Regions from separate parts of the Homo sapiens genome. Here region 1 is linked to region 2. Evidence: fine-mapped expression QTL. Tissue or cell type: visceral fat. Region 2 holds a variant in brackets; the other region holds the start of a gene. All regions are shown on one strand. Distances are between the middles of the regions.

Evidence for each region. PIP is the estimated chance that this variant, and not a neighbour inherited with it, causes the effect.
Region 1: TGM2 starts here. The variant in region 2 is fine-mapped to the expression of TGM2 in visceral fat (GTEx, PIP above 0.99).

The regions. Positions count from the first base shown.
Region 1 is chr20:38,164,026-38,166,525 of GRCh38, forward strand. TGM2 (transglutaminase 2) reads right to left here and starts at 1,245. Exons shown (of 13, transcript NM_004613.4): 1 at 1,164-1,245. The coding sequence starts at 1,173. RefSeq lists a silencer at 1,098-1,537.
Region 2 is chr20:38,056,835-38,059,594 of GRCh38, forward strand. It overlaps RPRD1B (regulation of nuclear pre-mRNA domain containing 1B), which reads left to right. Exons shown (of 7, transcript NM_021215.4): 4 at 698-810; 5 at 2,560-2,686. Among named protein-coding and RNA genes, the nearest start is that of RPRD1B, 24 kb to the left of the region's middle. The variant CTT/C (reference allele first, on the strand shown) is at 1,574.

The DNA of each region.
Region 1 (2,500 bases), 110 kb after region 2:
CTGTCAGAAGTGGCCACTGTGACATGGGGCTGGAGGCTCATCATAACTGGCATCTCCAGGATCTCCCAGCCCCACTGAGCCCTGCTTTTGAGCATGGGGGTGAGAAGATGCATTGAGGACAAGCGGCCACCGAGGCGACACATCACAGTGTGTTGGGAGCTGGGCCCGAGGGAGGCAGGTGGCTGAGATCACACAGCAGGGTCAGGTGGGTCCACAGTTCCTGCCACCCATTCCTGCTCCACCTGCCCCATGTCCCTGTCCCACACCCCTTCCTGGGGGTTGCAATGGGTGCAGAAGCCATCCCCAGATGAACTTGACCCAAGAGCCAGCTGGGATTCTGGGTCCAGCAGTGACATCCTCCATTGTAGAAATCCCTCCAGCTGGGACCTACGAGAGTGCTGCTTGTGTGTGGGGAGGGAGTCAGGGGCACCAGTATGAAATTAGTTAAGCCTCTGTTCCACTCCTCTCGTTCCTCACAGATGCACCAAAGGCTGGAGCAGAGGACCAGGGCACGGTCAGGGTGACAGATGGGTGGGGGTCTTGGGGGAAAACAAATCTCATAAACCTTGTCCTATAAAATAAGGACACTGTTGTCCTTATTTTATAGGTGAGACTCAACAATTGGCCAAGGTCTAGGGTTGCAGAACGTGAGGGCGGGAAGAACAAGCCTGATTTCCGAAGGCTCCTGGATAGGATGCCGAAAGCTCCTCTCTGGCCGCTGGAGCCAAGGACTCAGCCAGGCTTGGCTTGCACACCACCGGCGTGGCATGCACACCACCTGGTCCTGGCTGGCAAGAACCACCCAAACCTAAGTGTTCTGAGGCCAGGCCAGCACCCCCTGCACAGCTCCAGGCACACATCAGAGAGCCAGCCCCCACTGACTGACTGAGGACACGTGCCAGTGGTCCGCCAGGACAGTACTTTACAGTTTACAACACCCCGTCGCGTTCCATTGCCTCACCTGATCCAGGGAGGCAAGGGTTAATGGTTATGCAGTGTGGATGGGGAAACTGAGGCTCCAAGCAGCATTGAGACGCCTCCTCACCCAGCCCGGTCTGCCTGTTGCTCTCCAAATCAGGACTTAGGGATTCAGCTCCCACCGGGTCCTGACCCCCAATGCCCCGGGGCCCCTGAGTGGCGGCTGCGGTGACTCTGATACTCACCCTCGGCCATGGTCGGGCGGGGGCGGTGGCTCCTTCCACTGGCGGCGAGACCCTCCAAGTGCGACCACTGGCGGCTGGCACTGCCGAGGCGGAGAGCGGCGCTAACTTATAGCCCGCTTTGGGGCGGGCCGGGGGCGGGGCCCCGCGGGAAGGCGGCGACCTGGGAGGCCACCCATTGCCCAGTCCCGGGCCCACGCCGCCAGCGCTGGGGCTCACCCAGGGGACCGGAGCCCGAGGGAGGGACGGCGGCCGGACGAGGGCGCCCCCTGGGGGAGCGGACAGGGACACACAACTAGCCCAGGATACAGACACACCTGGACCCACAGACTCAGACCTTGGAGAACAGACACCTGGACACACACACTCAGATACAGACACACGCAGCACCCTCATAGAAACACACAACGGAACCGGGGTGCACCTGGACACACAGATGTGGACTCTTAGGTCAGATCTGGGATCAAGAACACCTCCCCACCCCCAACACACACACACACACACACACACACACACGCACACACTCACACACATACTCAGATATACATACACAGAGAGCAGACGCAGACACACCAAGACAGGGCTGTGGAGATACACACACAAACACAGATACACTCCCACAGATACACCAAACACGGCTGGCCACGCAGACACAGTGACATGGATACAAATTCAGATTCGAATGGCAGACACACACCAGGACATAGATACAGCCTGACACAGCCAGGTAGCCTTGACCGCGAGCCACACACAGCTGTGGACACAGATGAGCAGGTGTCCAGAGGCACCTGGCACACACACAGACCTCCTAGACACCAATGCCACTGTCAGATGTGGACGCAAAATCAGAGAGGGCACCCACAGACACACAAAGATGTGGCTACTCAGAGGTAGACACACATGCAGGCATGGACTCAGGTACAGACATGCAGACACACCTGCAAAAACAGACACACCCATGTCCCTTCCTGTAGCAAAACCCAGATAATCCTCCGATCTCACCCATCCTTGTATCTGTCTAATCAGCCATCCATCTAATCAGCCATCCATCTACCCATCCATCCACTCACCCATGCATCACCTACCCCCCCACCTATCCATCCACTCATCCCTTCATCCATCCCTCCCTCGGCCTTCTCTTCCCTCCCTCCCTCAATCCATCCATCCACTGAGCTTTCTTGAGGCCCCACTGTGTGCCAGAAAGGAGCAAGACTAACTTTCCAGGGACTCAGCCTAGGACTTCTCGAACCTGGCAACCAGGGGTCCTATCTCTCATCCTGGTATCTCTGGTCTCTTGGTCTCCTGTGCTTCCGGATCCACTGTGAGCCCTGAGCGGGAAG
Region 2 (2,760 bases):
GGCATTTATTTTGTATTGTCTAATTTGATGCAAAAAGAATGATTTTGGAATTAACACATCTATCATAACAATGTAAAAACATACGGTGCAGATAGATCATAAATAATGTAACCTGTCAGCCTCAAAAGTGGTTAAATTTAAAATGGTAACTTAAGTAATTTTTCTCAGTAGTATCAATCACATGTCTCAGTAATGGTTATTTTAATTTTAAGGTAAAATTAGATTTATTTTATTTTTAGGGGAATAGTGTAAAGAATATTTGTGTTTGACACAATTTTATTGATAAAATTTTCTCTCCTGTTTTCTGAAATGATCCCTGGAAAGCATAACGTATCTCATTTTATACACAATATCTTCTCTGTAAACCCTAGCACACGTTGGTTTGCTTCATTGTATTGTCCCATGAGTTTCTTACTCAAGTGTGATAGTTGGGTAAGTTTTCGCTTTAGATGCCTGTTTTCTGTAGTATTTTACCAGAGAATCAATCTGAGATGACGGACAAAGACCTGTTTGACTCTTTTCAGTAATGTAGGGAACTACAGTCAATTTAAAATAACTAGCATAAAGGTTACTATTAAGCCATTCTGAAAATGTGTGCCCCTTCTGCCCTGTTTTTACATGTGGCCCATTGTGCATAGCATGTGACTTATCACTACAGGATATGTGACTCAAATTTATTACTTTCTCTTTTGTCTAGCAACAGAAGAGAAGAAATCTCTGAAACGAACTTTTCAGCAAATTCAGGAGGAGGAGGATGACGACTACCCTGGCAGCTACTCTCCTCAGGATCCTTCTGCAGGACCCCTCTTGGTAGGTCTTGACCCCCAGAGAGTAGGGAACAGTGGCTTAAAGTGACCTCTAGTTGAAGACTATGGCCACAAGGTGGCGCCAGTGACCACTGGTATGGAATCATCAGAGGGCACCTCTCAGGGGCCCCGTGCATCATCCTGCCCAAAGGAGCTTGCCGGATGGCAGGTGTCAGTATGTCTTTGCGTGCCATAACTCTGGGATGGGCTTATGTTTTATAAAGTACTTGGACTTGGTTTTTTCAATCCTAGAAATTAAGAATATTCTTTAAAAATAGATTTTGGAGAAAGGGATAGATAATATTACAAAGATATTCAAAAGTCGTCTACCATGGCCTGTCTCCAGTAGCATGGTAGTTTTATAAAGTAACTCATTAATATCTAAAGACAGTCTATGTGTCAATAGCAAATTTGCTGCACTGTAGCCTATTAAATATTGAAACAAGGAGTTAGTCTTTACCCATGTGTTTGTGTTATTTGGCTATACAGGTTAGCTTACAAAATCTAAATGAAAGAAGTTGGGCACAAGGTGACAGTTTAAGTAACTTGACCAGTGTCTTAATTTAAATCCAGGTGTGTCTGACTTCAGAGCCCATGCTCTTTTCAAGGCGGGGGCGGGGGGGGCTTCATCTTATTTTGCCTAAAACAGCTTTATTACACATGGTCATGCTTAAAGCCTATGTAAATAGGAAACATGTCTAGTTTGTGTTATGTTACGGTGTTGAGTTAGACTAGGGATTAAATGACAGCAGTGTTAGGTCATATAT[CTT/C]TGGATTTAAACACTTTAAAGACTACAGCCTAGATTATTACCTTTCAGGGTAATCTAACTACCATCTACAGAGCTAGCTACTCCTTGGTGATTATGGAGTGGCCTGTTAGCATTGTTTTCTGACAATTTAAGAAACTCCTTTTTGATATATACAGAAAATGTATCCCTGGTTTACTTTTCTTGTTTTTTCCCCCTGGGTTTATAATAAGTTTGATACATTTAATTTTGGGAGTGACATCCATTTTGTCAAGAAAACCCAAGAAAGAATTGAAGTAGGTTGATCAGTCAACATATAATTTTTTCCTTCTCCTTCTTGAGACAGGATCTTGCTCTGTTACCCAGGCTGGCGTGCAGTAGCATGATCATAGTTCACTGCAAACTCAACCTCTGGGGCTCAAGTGATACTCCTACCTCAGCCTCCCAAGTAGCTGGGACTATAGACATATGCCACCATGCTTGGCTTATTATTTTATTTTAATTTTTTTGTAGAGACAGGGTGTCGCTATATTGTCCAGGCTGGTCTCGAACTCCTGGGCTCAAGTGATCCTCCTGCCTTGGCTTCCCAAAGTGCTAGGATTACAGGTGCGAGCCACCACACCTGGCCACAACACACAGTTGTTAACATCTGATATTTATACCTTTATTCTATACTGGAAATGATACATCATTTGAAATTAAGCAACATGAACCAAACTCCATTGTTTTGAATTGCCAAAAACATGTTCTTTTAGAATTAAAAAATAATAATAATTATTCAGAATTTCATTCATGTTCTGCCATGGACTTAGATAAACTAATTTTGTGGATTTTCTTAGAGTCCGTGACATTGACTTACATGTAAGCTCTGGGGCTAAGAACAGTTTTTTTTAAGAAATGGCAGGAATGACTGTTTTTAGAATTTGCCTCCACCTCATTTAACTCCAACTAATTTTCTTTAAACCCCATGTCTTAATGGGTAGTGTTGTTTGTGTTTTCATCTTACAGACTGAGGAACTAATCAAAGCTTTGCAGGATCTGGAAAATGCCGCATCAGGGGATGCTACTGTCCGACAGAAAATTGCTTCTCTGCCCCAGGAAGTGCAAGATGTTTCTCTATTGGAAAAAATAACAGGTGAGAAGGTAGAGTTTGGGTGAAAGGTGAGGAGAGAGGGACATAACTGTAATGCAGTAACCCTAGGCCATACT